2 separate regions of the Homo sapiens genome follow, and region 1 is linked to region 2. Evidence: fine-mapped expression QTL. A gene starts in region 2. The other region holds a variant in brackets. All regions are shown on one strand. Distances are from middle to middle.

Region 1 (8,306 bases), 64 kb after region 2:
GAAGAGCCCATTATTTATAGGTGAGTCATTAGTCCCTGTACAACTAAGGACAAGGCCAACTGATAACTCAGTAAATAATCGAGTCCATTTTGTGCTTGCGAGTTAGGGGCTTAATTTGGGGTGGTTTGCAGATTAAGTACTTTCACTGCATATAATAAACGTACACCAGCAAACCACTCATGGAATTCTTAAAAAAACTTCTGAGCTAGTTTACCAGTTTCAAAGACTAATTCAGAGAGCATGTTTTACCTATTCTAGGCTGGACTGGAACTCCTGGACTCAAGCGATCTTTCCATTTATCAGGGACTACTGACGCGTGTCTCCCAATAAATACCTGAGTATAAACAACATGAGGACTAGAATTTTGTGCGTTAACTGTTATAACTTAGTAGACACTCAAATACTGAGTACTTGAAGGGGGACTCAAGCAGGCAGGCCTCTGATTTTCCTGTTAAAAGCAGAAATTAACCACACCTTGGAGGATGTACAGTTTTGAAGGATATGGCATGTTAACAATAAAATAGGAGACCATTCAGTCCCCGAAGTAGTGAGACAATGAAGATAAAGACTGGTATTGTATAAGAAAGGAGGAATATTTAGGTGTGGCCATCAACTCTAAAAATAAATAAGGTTGAGAAGGAAGTATTTTAAACATAGAACTGGGCCCGGCGCAGTGGCTCACAGTAGCACCTTGGGAGGCCGAGGCGGGAGGATTGCTTGACCAGCCTGGGCAGCATAGTGAGACCCCCGTCGCTACAAAAAAACAAGCTGGGCTTGGTGCCACACATCTATAGTCCCAACTACTCAGGAGGCTGAGGTGGGAGGATTTCTTGAGCTGGGAGATTGAGGCTGCAGTGAGCTATGATGGTGCCAGTCTGGGCAACAGTGAGATGCTTCCTCAACAAAACAAAACATAAAATTGAGAGATATAAAGGCTCAACTACAGTGTTTAACTACAAGACAATTTTGAGAAGGTGAAAAGAGCATACTAAAGTTGGTCTTTTTTTGACAGAAAAATACAGAACAATTTTCAGTCCTAACAGTTCAAACTAAAACTGGACAATCGTTTATCTGTGGAGTTTCCTGCTTAGCCATTTCACAAAGGTGGGCAGAAAAAGGGAAAGAGTTGCAAGGGCCGAAGAGAGTAAAGGTGTAGAGACAAACTCAGTCGCAACAGCAGGCCTAGGCCTGGCAGGGTGTGGGCGCCCAGGATATTTGATGCTCCATGGAAGGGAGTGGAGACAGAAAGACTGTCTTCCATTCTGTCTAGAGTTCCAGATCAAGTCTGAGCAGGTGCAAGCTTTCCCAGAACCTGCTGATTAACCTTGTAAAACCCAGGGTGTGTCCTTCTTCACCCAGGAAGCCACCCCCTCCTTTCCCCCAACACTCTCCCCCTCCCTTTGCCTGGGACAGCTGTTAATAGGACAGTTACCCAAGAAGCAAAAGAAGGATCCCATGCTGATGTGTCATCAGTCCCGGTATATCCATTAAATCAGACTGAGAAGACCACTGGAAAAAGTGAGCGCATGCATGTGGCTCCCTAAGGGAAAGGCTGGCAGCCATTGTAAAACTAGGCCTTGCCCCTGCGACTCCAGGCTGGGCAGGAGAGAGAAGAAGGCAGTGGAAGCCGAGAAGAGGGTTAGGTCTAAAGCACACGGATTTGGGGCCAGCTAACTATAAAACATACACGGAAATCCCCACCCCCACCCCAGGAATAGCAGTGTAGTGTCTACCGACCCAGCTTCCCTGGTAGGAAAAGCTGCTGCTGCCGCCAACAGCCACATCCATCCTGCAGTCATCCCTGGAGGATGACACATGCCAGGAATCCTCAGAGAAGGGGCTGTGGGAGGGCAGGCTGGCTGGGGCTCTGATTTCTTCTGGAACAGTGAAATTGCTTTTTCCCTAAAAGGGAAACCCAGGCTTTCTGCCATTCTGGTTGTCCATTATCTTTCCTCTAAAAATGTCTCTAAGGCCAGGCACAGTGGCTCACACCTGTAACCCCAGCACTTCGAGAGGCCCAGGTGGGCAGATCACTTGAGCCAGGAGTTTGAGACCAGCCTGGCCAACATAGTGAAAACCCATCTCTACAAAAAAAATACAAAAATTAGCCAGGCGTGGTGGTTCATGCCTGTAGTCCTAGCTAGTGGGGAGGCTGAGGTGGAAAGATCACCCGATCCTGGGGAGGTTGAGGGTGCAGTAAGCTGTGATTGCGCCATTGCACTCCAGTCTGGGCAACAGAGTAAGACCCTGTCTCAAAAAAAATAATAAAAAGAAAAACATGTCTTTAAGTTTTGCTAATCCATATAAGTATTTCTTACTCTGTAACCTCATCTAATCCAGGGGAATAGATTAGATAGATGATTGCCTGAGATTTCCTTACAGTCCTGAGAGATGGTAGGAATACATCATGTCAATACTAAATGTTAGCATGTTTTGCAAAGAAATCAATTAGTTTTCTGGCAAATCCGGACATATGGCCCTCTCTCTTATATGGTAAACATCATCAGCAAGCTTGTTACCATTAAACCACCAAAAAGTAAAGCTCTCCTGCAAGCCAGCCTCTTTCCTATGCACCACTACCACACTCTTAGAAGATTGCTTCTCAATCCTGGCTGCATATTAGAATCACCCAGGTGGGTAGCTCGTAAGAAATACCAATGCCCAGGTCCCACCCCACACCAATTAAAACAGCTGCCCAGAGCAGAATTGGACATCAGTATTTTGTAAAAGCTCTTCAGGTGATTCTTATGCACAGCCAGAGTAGAGAATCACTAGGTTGGAGCAAGAATCCACATTGGGGTAAAAAAAAAAAAAAAAAAAAAAAAGCAAAAGATTGTGGTAATACGGGAACACAGACTAGAATGATTATCTGACTTTTTTTTTTGAGATGGAGTCGCTCTGTGGTCCAGGCTGGAGTGCAGTGACACCATCTCAGCTCACTGCAACCTCTGCCTCCCCAGTTCAAGCGATTCTCCTGCTTCAGCCTCCTGAGTGGCTGGTATTAAAGGTGCACACCACCACGCTTGGCTAATTTTTGTATTTTTAGTAGAGACAGGGTTTTGCCATGTTGGCCAGGCTGGTCTCAAACTCCTGACCTCAAGTGATCTGCCCACCTCAGCCTCCCAAAGTGCTGGGATTACAGGCGTGAGCCACTGCACCCGGCCCGTTTGACTTTTAGGGTGTGCTCATTCTCAACCCTAAAATGTTCTTTCTTCACCTCTACAATGAAAATGCCTCATTGTTCATTAGTGTCTTAGTGTAACATTTTTTGAAGCTGAGTTCAACTGTCCTGTATGTCTTGCTATGTTGTCTCAAACAATACCAGGTAGTGTTCTTCATATAGCTCTGTGTGACATGTCACACTCAAGGAGCTGCCATTAAGAGGTAGGAGGAGTGGATGTTTTGGACTCATAGGTGGGTTCGAAAATCTGGCTCTGTTTCTTACTAGTTGGGCCATCCCGAGCTAAATGGAGATAACAATGTACATATTCATAAATCTTAAAAATCAGGTCATGTGTATAAAGCCATTCATGCCTGGAGGAAGAGCTGAGTATAAGGCCCTGTCTTGAATAATCCTCTCTCCACCCACCCTACAACTTTATCTCAGAGAAAGCCAAAGGCGATGAAGAAATGAGAGCTGTCCTTAGAATGGTCTACTAGAAACCCATCCTACAGACAGAGCATGGAAGCTTTAGTTTTCTCTAGAGGATGCCACCAGTACACACTTCCACGCCTCATATTCCACACACACCTCCCCCTCTTGACATTAAGCAGGAGGGATAGAGAGAGGCTGGTACCCAAGGGAGCTGTTTCTTCTCGTCACATAAGAACAGATGCTGAAATCCTAGGACAGACAGCACAGAAATGTGGCAGCAGGAGGGTGACTCAGAGGAAATGAAATGGTCTCCCCTTCAAGCTATACCAAGGCCCAGAGGAGAACCTGCTTTGAATCACCTGCCTCCTGGGACTCCAAAGGGCAGGGACCAATTCTGAGTGCACTACTTCACAGGTTCCAGCTGGGTAGGGATGTGCACAGCCCACCTCTCCATCCTACTGTGCCTACCCGAAGGGAGTAGAGGGCAGAGAAACATGAAGGCTGCATTCTTTTTGAACCCAACTTGGCTTCCTCGAGCTGGGGAGGCTCTCCTGCCGAGTCTGCTGCTGCACGTGCATGCTTCTCATGTGCTGCCAGCCTTAAACTGGAAAGTCCTCTTAGGGCCATGCTCTGTGGAAGACACTGTCCCAATACTGGACACACATAGCTC[A/G]CATGTTTATGTGAAACTGCATTAAAGGTGCACTTCAGGATGTGTGGGGAAGCGGTTGTCATGGAGAGAAAGAAGTTCTGGGGTCTCTGTTGAAGGAGTTTGGGGAGGGGTTATCATTGGGGAGAATCTTGTCCTTGAAAAGTTGAACTTGGCTCTGAATTTACTTATTCACCACTAAACTAAGATGTAAAGAGATTTTATGGGCCAGGCACGGTGGCTTACGCCTATAATCCCAGCACTTTGGGAGGCCAAGGTGGGCAGATCACTTAAGGTCAGGAGTTGGAGAACAACCTGGCTAACATGGTGAAACCCCGTCTCTACTAAAAATACAAAAATTAGCCGGGCATGGTGGCACGCACCTGTAATCCCTGCTACTTGGGAGGCTGAGGCAGGAGAATTGCTTGAACCCGGGAGGCAGAGGTTGCAGTGAGCCGAGATCGTGCTACTGCACTCCAGCCTGGGCGACAGAGTGAGACTCCATTTCAAAAAAAAGAAAAGATGTAAAGAGATTTTAAGAAGAGGAACAACAAGGCCAGGCGCGGTGGTTCACGCCTGTAATCCCAGCACTTTGGGAGGCCAAGGCAGGCGGATCACCTGAGGTCAGGAGTTCAAGACCAGCCAAACAACATAGTGAAACCCTGTCTCTACTAAAAATAAAAAAAATTAGCTGGGTGTGGTGGCGCATACCTGTAATCCCAGCTACTCAGGAGACTGAGACAGGAGAATCGCCTGAACCTGGGAGGCGGAGATTGCAGTGAGCCAATATCACCCCATTGCACTCCAGCCTGGGCAACAAGAGTGAAACTCCTTCTCAAAAAAAAGAAAAAAAGAAAAAGAAAAAGCAACAACAGTGATAGATGTGGGGGTGATGAGAACTTTGTGGTTCCTAAGCTTCCTTCCCCAGCCTTCTCTCATTCCTATCCCCTTGGCCCCTCTCCAGTGCCTTCCCATCCCTAACGTGTATAACTGACTCCTTCCCCACCTCCCCTATGGAGCCAGCCCCCTAAGTCCCCTATCTTCCCAGGTCTTCCTCTGTCCCTTCTGGAGGCTGCTGGTCTTTCATAGTGGGTACCATAGCCAAACAGAGGCTGAGAAATGCTCCTGGAGGCTTTTTGGTGCTGTCCTTGTAAATATGAGCCAAAAAAAAAAAAAAAATGGACTAGCTCACAGAAATATTAAGACATCAAAATAACCAAATCAGTATTTTTTAGAAATAACATACCCAGCCAGCATGACCATTGACATAACTTCTGATGATCTGGAATCCGAAGAAATAAAATGCCCAAATGCTGGGTCTTTTCCCTGGCTGCTGTTATCAAATAGTGTCATTATGTTCCCTATTATAACTGATAGCCTGCAAGAAAGGTTCAGATGTGCCTTCTAAGTCATCATATAGGGAGGGTCAGTAGATGCTTCCTCAGATGTCTGCATGGCCTGCTTCCTCCTTTCCTTTAGCTCTTTGTTCAAATGTCACCTTGTTAAAGGTTTTCTCAGAGGACTATGAAAATGGCTTTCTGGCTTGCCTGTCCCTTACCCCTCACATTCCACATCCCATTTCTGCTCTATTTTTCTTTGCAGCACTTATCCCCAACTCATATAATATCTACTTTTCCCATTTATTTGTGTATTATATCTTGCACAGAAACGCACGCATGTACATACACAAACACTTGATTGTAAGTTCCATGAGAGCAAAATTTTTCTTTTGTCTACTATTGTGTCCCAGTGGCTAGAAAAATATCTGGTACATACTAAGCACTCAATAAATATTTGTACAGCACATAAAATATGTTGTCTTTTTTTTTTTTTTTTTTTTGGAGATAGAGTCTTGCTCTGTTGCTGAGGCTGCAGTGGTGTGATCTTGGCTCACTACAGCCTCTGCCTCCTGGGTGCAAATGATTCTCCTGCCTTCACCTCCCAAGTAGCTGGGACTACAGGCACTCGCCACCATGCCTGGCTGATTTTTGTGTGTTTTTAGTAGAATCAGGGTTTCACCATGTTGGCCAGGCTGGTCTCGAACTCCTGGTCTCAAGTGATCTGCCCGCCTTGGCCTCTCAAAGTGCTGGGATTACAGGTATGAGCCACCACACCCAGCCAATATGGTATCATTGATAGGTACATTTTAATTATTATTAGTTAAAATTTGGTATTTGTGAATATTTATACATGATCTCCCTCATCCTGAATTCCTTTATTCATTTACTTCACAAATGCTTATTAAATATCTGTCATCGGCCAGGTGCAGTGGCTCATGCCTGTAATCCCAGCACTTTGGGAGGCCGAGGCAAGCAGATCACAAGGTCAAGAGATCGAGACCATCCTGGCCAACATGGTGAAACCCTGTCTCTACTAAAAATACAAAAATTAGCTGGGCGTGGTGGTGTGCACCTGTAGTCCCAACTACTCGGGAGGCTGAGGCAGGAGAATCACTGGAACCCGTGAGGCGGAGGTTGCAGTGAGCCGAGATCTCGCCACTGCACTCCAGCCTGGTGACGGAGCAAGACTCCGTCTCAAAAAAAAAAAAAAAAAATCTGTCACCAAGCCTTGTAAGAAACACTAGGGATTCCACAGTGAACAAGACAAACATAATTGGCCAGGTGAGGTGGGTCACACCTGTAATCTCAGGGCTTTGGGAGGCCGAGGCAGGAGGAGGGCTTGATCCCAGGAGTTCAAGACCTGCCTGGACAACACAGCAAGACCCTGCCTTTAAAAAAAATAATAATAAATAACCAGGCATGGTGGCACGTGTGTATCGTCCCACCTACTCAGGAGACTGAGACAGGAGAATGGCTTGATCCTGGGAGTTGTTTGTGTGTGTGTGTGTGTGTGGGTGGGTGGGTGGGTAGCAGGTTCTCGCTCTCTTGGCCAGGCTGGAGTGCTGTAGTGCGGTCTCGGGTCACTGCAACCTCCACCTCCCAGGTTCAAGTGATTCTCCTGCCTCAGCCTCCCGAGTAGCTGGGATTACAGGCACCTGCCACCACCCCCGGCTAATTTTTTTGTATTTTTAGTAGAGATGGGGTTTCACCATGTTGGCCAGGCTGGTCTCAAACTCCTGACCTCGTGATCCGCCTGTCTCGGCCTTCCAAAGAGCTGGAATTACAGGCGTGAGCCACCGTGCCCGGCCGACACTGGGAATTTGAGGCTGCGGTGAACTATGATCACACCACTGTACTCCAGCCTGGGTGATAGAGCAAGACCCTGTCTCAAAACAAAAAAACAAACAAACAAAAAGTCACATTCATTGGTTCTTGCAGGGCTCAAAGTCTGGGCGGGGAGAAGGAACACTTATAAACAAACTAGTAAAGGCTGGGAATGGTGGTTCACGCCTGTATCCCAACACTTTGGGAGGCTGAGGTGGGAGGATCACTTGAGCCTAGGCGTTCAAGACCAGCCTGGGCAACATAGTGAGACCTTGATCATGATCACCCTCCTCCCCCTCCTCCTCCTCTTCCTTTCTTTTTCTCTTCTTCTTCTTCTTCTTTTTTTTTTTTTTGAAACAGATTCTCACTCCCATTGCCCAGGCTGGAGCACAGTGGCATGATCATGGCTCTGCAGCCTTGAACCCCCAGACTCGGGTGATTCTCCCACCTCAGCCTTCTGAGTAGCTGGGACTACAGGTCACACCACCCTACCTGGCTAATTTCTTTGTAGTTTTAGTAGAGACTAGATCTTACCATGTTGCCCAGGCTGGTCTGGAACTCCTGGGCTCAAGCCTTCTGCCCACCTCAGCCTCCCAAAGTGCTGGGATTACAGATGTGAGCCATTGAGCCCAGACTTGAGACCTTGTTTCTACAAAAATAAAAAAAATAAAAAAATAAAAAATTACCTGGGAGTGGTTGCATGCACCAGTGGTCCCAGCTACTCGGGAGACTGAGATGGGAGGATTGCCTGAGCCCAGGAGGTTGAGGCTGCAGTGAGCCCAGATCGAGTCACTGCACTCCAGCCTGGGCAACAGAGTGAGACCGTGTCTCAAACAAGCAATATTAGTAAAAATAATATTTAGAGATTGAAAAAAGTGCAATGAAAGAAAGAAATAGGAAC
Region 2 (8,000 bases):
GTATTTTTAGTAGAGACGGGGTTTCTCCATGTTGGTCAGGCTGGTCTCGAACTCCTGACCTCAAGTGATCCGCCCTCCTCGGCCTCCCAAAGTGCTGGGATTACAGGCGGGAGCCACCACGCCCTGCCAGATCACAGCTTTGAAAGCGAGCCTAACAGCACCCCCTCCCGGCTGTTTAGAGACAACCAAGTCCCCACAAACACCAATGCTTCTGCATTTCTCCCAGTCTCACTAACAACCAGTCAACTCCCCACAGGTGAATCATAGAGCTAGAGCACTCCAAGGAGCACCTGAGTGGGTTGCCCAGTTGGGACCTTCCCCTTATCCAATCCATACTCTGGAACCCGAGCCAATTGTTCTAATTACTTCCTCTCCTGACATGCCATCCGGTTTGTACTTCTGTCCAAGCACCCCACAGCTGCACAGGTCGACTCAGGATGCGTTCTGCTCCTTTGTAAAGATTCATTAAAGCCTCAGCCCCTGATTTTCCCCAATGTGGCAGTTCACGTGTATAGCGACATCACCCACTCCGACAAGGGGACCATGAAGGCTGCAGCACGGGGTTACTCAAGTCCAATGGGGCCCATGATGTCACCTTCTGTTAAAATACAGCACTAATCTTGTTACTTCTACAACTATTCCAACAGCATCCACCCTGGCTGCCGCCTGCACCCCCTTCTCTCTTAAGAGAGAAACAATAAGGTTTAATTTCCCTTTCCAATTTACCTTGAAATGAAAACTGACTTCAGCCAATATGTACTGCCAACAAATGATCCAGGCTGGCTCCTGGGAAAACAAGACTATCTCTAATATCTCTAAGCCCTCCCTCTCCTCCCCCATCCCGTACTCATTCACATACCCACTCATTTTTACAGTCCCACAATTAATTTTAAACACATTCTCTTATTAGTTCTGCCTTACCATTAGAACACTGTGTAATGAGTTTCCTTCTATTTTATGTTTTGCTAACACAAGGCTAACATTTCAAAAGAAGGGGAACTCATTTACACCATGAAATTAGCAAAGCAAACCACTTTTTCAATTCTCTCCAATATACCAGAAGTATCTCCACAGACAAACACTGCATGCAGAAACGAAGCTGCATGGTCCATGACAAAATTGGGCTACACAATATTGAGCAAACCTAAGGTTTTGTGATTTCAGTACCATCTTAAATGGTATTCTTGCTGACAATCTGATTTTTATCTGATGCAGCCACCACCTCCAAGGGGTCCTGAACTGAAAGGTGGGAAATTCCAATTCCATAACAACCCATATATAACATTCCAGATATCAGTCAAATGTCTGAGACCAAAAAGAGCAGACCTATTTGCTGTGAACAATGAACCTCCTTAAGTTTTTTTTTTCTCTTCTCTTTGCAGGCATTGGATAAACTGCCAGCACAGGAGCAGAGAGTTAAATATTCTGAAGTGTCTTTAAACAAAACTAACAACGGGAAAGACGATGACAAGGAAATCACAGTCATCCACTCAGTGGAGCTCATACATCTTTTGTGCCTTGAAAAAGGTTTGTCAAATTCAGGACCATAATTTAGGAACGAAATGATCATCATACCCTTGGTCTCAGGAAGTTTGTATAGGGCCCTGCACTACCTTCATGAAGAAATTCTTCTTTCCTTTGGGGCCAATACCACTCAGAAACAAATAGCTATGAACTGGCTTTTTAAAAACCTCCAGACACCAGCCTGGCCAACGTAATGAAACTCCGTCTCTACTAAAAATAAAAAAAATTAGCGGGCGTGGTGGCAGGCGCCTGTAATCCCACCTACTTGGGAGACTGAAGCAGGAGAATCACTTGAACCCGGGAGGCGGAGGTTGCAGTGAGCCGAGATCGCGCCACTGCACTCCAGCCCAGGCGACAGTGCAAGACTCCGTTGTCAAAAAAAAAAACACAAAAAACAAAAAACCTCCAGATGGGCCGGGTGCGGTGGCTCACGTCTGTAATCCCAGCACTTTGGGAGGCCGAGGCGGGCGAAATACGAGGTCAAGAGATTGAGACCATCCTGGCCAACATGGTGAAACCCCTTCTTTACTAAAAATACAAAAATTAGCTGGGCATGGTGGCGCGTGCCTGTAGTCCCAGCTACTCGGGAGACTGAGGCAGGAGAATCAGTTGAACCCAGGAGGTGGAGGTTGCAGTGAGCCGAGATCGCACCACTGCACTCCATCCTGGCAACAGAGTGAGACTCCGTCTCAAAAAAAAAAAAAGAAAGTTTCAGTTGTAACTGTCCTTAAAAACACTGGGCTGGCCCAGTGGCTCACGCCTGTAATCCAACACTTTGGGAAGCTGAGGCGGGCAGAACACTTGAGGCCAGGAGTTCAAGAACAGCCTGGCCAACAAGGCAAAACTTCGTCTCTACTAAAAATACAAAAATTAGCTGGGCATGGTGGCACAGGCCTGTACTCCCAGCTACTCGGGAGACTGAGGCATGAGAATTGCTGGAACCCAGGAGGCGGAGTCTGCAATGAGCCAAGATCACACCACTGCACTCCAGCCTGGGCGACAGAGCAAGACCCTGTCTCAAAAAACAAACAAATAAACACTGGAACAAATACAAAAACCTAGACACCAAGTAGTAATTTCTAGCAACCACTCTTCTCCATTAGATTCCTCCCCACAGATACCACTCCTCAAAAGAAAAAGCTCAGTTCTGCCTCTGGAGAAGCAGCAGGAAGTTCCTAACTTTAGTTCTCTGATCTGGGAGATGGATCTGTACTTCATCCAAATAAGGCTAGAGTCAGTGACCATAGCTAGTTACATAACTTAGTGTTAACTACATTTTCTGGGCCCTTTCAACCACATCTGAAGTTTCCTTTACTTTCTTCACCTGTACCAGCACCAGTAGCTCTGGTGAGTACCCGATTGTTTGCTGTTTACAAAGTAGATTCATCGTAAAGCTTTCTAATATAGTAACAATGCAAGGCTTTAGTCTCACCATTTATTTTCTCTCCCATTTAAACAACTTCAAGAGACAGGTTAAGAAACAAATCAGGTGATAAAAGTAGATGGAACTACTGAGACTACCGTCCCTTCTTACTCAATCTTGAGCCTTTAGTGCCAGATGGCAGAAAGCAATTCAAAAAGCTCTCGCTCCAATTATAAATATCACAGGTACTAAACAGAGGAAGCTCCCAGTTCTGACCAAGCTCTGTGTGATCTCAACCAAGCAGTTATGCTCCATCTTTTTGTCCATCTCTAATCGTACGCCTTTCACTTGGAAGGTAAGTAACAAAGGCGACCACAATCTACCGCCAAGTCTCCCGTGTCCACGTAAAATACTCGCCATTGCCCCCAGTCTTAGCCATTTAAGTAAATGTCCCCAGAGTCTTTTACTACGGCCACTCTTTCTCCATTCTCAACAAACTAGGACCGAAAGGTCCACATGGTCCTTCTTTCTTTCCGATTAAGCTTGGGGGGTAGGAAGTGAAAGATACACTTTGAAGGTAAACTGAAAAGCCGGGTTTCCTTTCTTGGATCCCGAGCAAGCCCTTGCCTTAATCCCGGGTGGTAAGAGAGTCCCTCCCTAGGATGTAAAGCGATGCCACCATCCCGAGTGCCACTACTGACGCTCAAGCCCACGCCCCCTCACAGGAGAGCAGCACCCACTCCCCAGGCCCCGCCCACGCCCTCTCACCTGAGAACAGCACCAGCTCCCCACAGCGACACCGCCCGCGCCCCACCATATAGCCAGATCACGGCTTCTCCTTCCGGGTGAGTCGCCGGTGCCCCGGTGCACGACGGGAGACGCCCCAATCCCGGGTGCCCGGGACGCCCCGCCCCTACAGGCCCGGGCTCTGAGTGGGATTCCCGCTTCCGAATAGCGCGGCTCCGCTGGCCAAGGCCCCGGACTGGAGTCGGGATCCCCCCTCCACTCACTTGGGACGCCGGAGAGTGCACGCAGGTGCCGGGTGAGGGACGGCGAATGGATATCCAATCCGGGGCCGCGTTCCGCCCACTGTCAGGGGAAGCCAATCAGCGGCCAGGGGGCGTCAGCGACGGGCAGCCAGTGGGTCCCGGGAGCAGAGGGGTGTAAGGGGGTTGTTACTCTTGTTCTCGCTATGCGAGGGATAGTCTGCAGTGTGGGAGGTTCGGGGCTTTAGGAAGCCCACATCCCTGGATCCTCACTAAGTCCCGAGAGCCACCATTTGAACCTCGTAGTTTGCTGTTCCCCAGCGGAGCTATCAAGGGGACTCCGATTCAGATTCGTAAAGCCACGGACCGATTGTCAGAGTGAAAGTCAGACTCGAGAGGGTCCGGCGACTCAGATTGCTCACACCGAAACAAACTCGAAGCAATATCATGCAGCTAGGGAGCAAGAGAAAGCCGTTCAATGTGTTGGTGGTCTTTTAACAACTTATTTAAAGATAATTTCAGCAAGCCTAGCGCGGTGGCTCACGCCTGTAATCCCAATACTATTAGGGAGGCCGAGGCGGGAGGATCGCTTGAGGCCAGGCTTGAGACACGCCCTACCAACTTAGGGAGACCCTCGCCTCTGCAAAATATTTTAAAAATTAGCCGGGCATGGTGACACGCGCCTGTAGTCCCAGCTACTCGGGAGGCTGAGACAGGAGGATGGCTTGAACCCAGGGGTTCGAGGCTGCAGTGAGCCCTGATCACTGCAGAGCAAGACCCTGTCTGAAAAAAAGAGAGAGAGCTAAAAGGAAGAAAAGAGAGGAAAGAAAAGAAAGGGGCCGGGCACAGTGCCTCACGCCTGTACTTCCACCACTTTGGGAGGCGGAGGCGGGTGGATTACCTGAGGTCAGGAGTTCGAGACCAGCCTGGCCAACATGGTGAAACCCCGTCTCCACTAAAACTACAAAAATTAGCTGGGCGTGGTCATGGGCACCTGTAATCCCAGCTATTCAGGAGACTGACACAGGGGGATTGCTTGAACCCAGGAATCGGAGGTTGCAGTGAGACAAGATCGCGCCATTACACTCCAGCCTGGGAGACTCCATTGTAAAAAATAAATAAATAAAAAGGAAGATAGCTGGGTTCTCCTATGTGCTTCCCCTTTCTCTGTTGTGCTCTGTTGTTTTGGTACATTAAGAAAATTCAGCCTTATATAGCTATGTAGTTGAGAAAAGGAAGAGTATTTTTAGCCTTCTCAAACAATTCTGAATACTCTTCTTTGATACTACCCAAATTCAACAAATGGTAACTTTTCTTTGCTTTTTTGAGACAGGGTCCTGCTCTGTTGCCCAGGCTGGAGTGCAGTGGCAGGATCACAGCTCACTGCAGCCTCAACCTCCAGGGCTCAAGCCATCCTCCCTCCTCAGCCCTTGGAGCTGCTGGGACCGCAGGCGTGTGCCACCATACTCGGTTAATTTTTAAAATTTTTATACAGATAATTTTTTAAGTTTTTAAAATTTTATACAACATAGAGTCTCCCTATGTTGCCGAGACTGGAAGTGTTTATTTATTTATTTTTAAGTACACACCACCTTGGAGATGGAGTCATTTCTTAAAGGTTAAGTGTGATAGGGAGTCAAGCCATTTAGAAAATACTGGTACAGAGTTATGCAGATCAGCCAATGTTGATGCATTTATTCAATGTAAAAAAAAATCACATTTATTAAATTCATCACTGATCTCATCAGGAAAGTCTCAAGAAACTGCCTACTGACTAGCTGGGATTACAGGCACGCGCCACCATGCCCAGCTAATTTTTGTATTTTTAGTAGAGATGGGGTTTCACCATATTGGTCAGGCTGGTCTTGAACTCCTGACCTCATGATCCACCCGCCTTGGCTTCCCAAAGTGCTGGGATTACAGGCATGAGCCACCGTGCCTAGCCTCACATGTCTTAATATTAAGACAGCCTCAACCTCCTGGGCTCAAGTGATCCTGCCACCCAAGCCTCCTAAGTAGCTGGGACCACAGGTGTGTGCCACCATGCCCGACTAATTTTTTATTATTATTTGTATAGATGAGGTCTCACTATATTGCCCAGCCTGGTCTTGAACTCTCAAGAGATTGAGACCATCTGGTGGTGTGTGATTGTAATTCCAGCTAGTCGGGAGACTGAGGCAGGAGAATCACTTAAACCCGGGAGGCAGAGGCTTCAGTGAGCCAAGATCATGCCACTGCACTCCAGCCTAGTGACAAAGTGAGACTCCGTCTCAAAAAAAAAAAAAAAAAAAAAAAAGAATGGTATACAGGACAAAGGCAGTGATGGCCCTCTCCACCTTGAAACACACATATAAGAGCCAGAATTTACTAACACAATAAATATGATACATCTGAAACTGTTGCCCTGTAATGTACAGTTTAGGAAAATGATGACATTTAAATAGAGACCTCAGGGAACATGATGGCTGAACTTCAATATTAGAAGAAACATATGAAAGAAAGATAAGGCTTACTGTGTGGCTACAGATGCCAGAATTAGGGAAAATAGGTGGCATCTCCATGGGGAGCAGAATTCAGCTCAATACAAGGAATTAGGGATGGCAGCATTTTATGTAGACAGAAATATGGTTTGGGTGTTAGATAGAAATGAGATTAAATCAATCAAGAATTTATGGCCAGGCATGGTGGCTCACATCTGTAATCCCAGCACTTTGGGAGGCCGAGACAGGTCAAGGCCTGCTTGAGCCCAGGCGTTCCAGACCAACCTGGACAATGTGACAAGACTCTGGCTCTACAAAATAGAAAAAATTAGCTGAGTAAGGTGTGGCTCAAAGCTACTCAGGAGGCTGAGGGGGAAAGATGACTTGGGCCTGGGAAGTTGAGACTACAGTGAACCGTGATTGCACTACTGCACTTCAGCCTAGGAGAGAGAGTAACATCCTGTCTCAAAAAAAAAAAAAAAAAAAAATAGGCCGGGTGTGGTGGCTCACACTTGTAACGCCAGCACTTTGGGAGGCTGCAACGGGGGGATCACAAGGTTAGGAGTTCAAGACCAGCCTGAAAACACAGTGAAAACCCGTCTCTACTAAAAATACAAAAATTAAGGCTGGGTGCGGTGGCTCACACCTGTAATCCCAGCACTTTGGTAGGCGGAGGCAGTGGGACCACTTGAGGTCAGGAGTTCAAGACCAGTCTGGCCAACATGGTGAAACCTCCCTCTACTAAAATTACAAAAATTAGCCAGGCACGGTGGCGGGCGACTGTAAACCCAACTACTCAGGAGACTGAGGCTGGATAATTGCTTGAACCCGGGAGGTGGAGGTTGCAGTGAGCCGAGATCTCACCACTGCCCTCCAGCCTGGGTGACAGAGCAAGACTCAGTCTCGGGAAACAAAAAAATTAGCTGGGCATGGTGGTGGGCACCTGTAATCCCAGCTACTCGGGAGACCAAGGCTGGATAATTGCTTGAACCTGGGAGGTGGAGGTTGCAGTGAACCGGATCATGCCACTGCACTCCAGCCTGGGTGACAGAGTTAGACTCCGTCTCAAAAAATAATAATAATAATAAATAAATAAAATAAAATAAAAAATAAACCAGAAGTGGTGGCTCACGCCTGTAATCTTAGCACTTTGGGCGGGTGGATGCCTGAACTCAGGAGTTCAAGACCAGCCTGGGCAACATGGTGAAACCCCCGTCTCTACTAAAATACAAAAAAATTAGCTGTGCATGGTGGCATGCACTTGTAATCCCAGTTACTTGGGAGGCTGAGGCAGGAGAAGTGCATGAACCCGGGAGGCGGAGGTTGCAGTGAGCCGTGATCTTGCCATTGCACTCCAGCCTGGGCGACAGTGCAAGACTCCACCTCAGGGAAAAAAAACAAAAAAAGCACTCATTAATAGTAGCTAATTATCATTACAACTAATTTTCTCATCATCATCAGTCAAAAACAGTACACTACAGGAGGAAGTGAGGAGATGCTTGCTTCTCACTTGCTTCTTCCTAGAAACCCAGCCCAAATGTTTCAGGAAGAATTGCTCTCTTTGTGTCCGGAGTTGATTCCTTCCGGTGGGTTTGTGGTCTCCCTGACTTAAACAATGAAGCCGCGGACCTTCATGGTGTTAAAAAC

Evidence for each region.
Region 1: its variant is fine-mapped to the expression of SNX11 in whole blood (INTERVAL, PIP above 0.99).

What each region holds. Positions count from the first base shown.
Region 1 is chr17:48,038,923-48,047,228 of GRCh38, reverse strand. NFE2L1-DT (NFE2L1 divergent transcript) reads left to right here. Exons shown (of 2, transcript NR_170231.1): 2 at 259-348. It also overlaps a transcript of COPZ2 not described here. Among named protein-coding and RNA genes, the nearest start is that of NFE2L1-DT, 5.0 kb to the left of the region's middle. RefSeq lists enhancers at 1-98, 8,266-8,306. The variant A/G (reference allele first, on the strand shown) is at 4,266.
Region 2 is chr17:48,103,494-48,111,493 of GRCh38, reverse strand. It overlaps SNX11 (sorting nexin 11), which reads right to left and starts at 3,728. Exons shown (of 7, transcript NM_013323.3): 1 at 3,656-3,728. RefSeq lists silencers at 1,855-2,028, 3,563-3,722.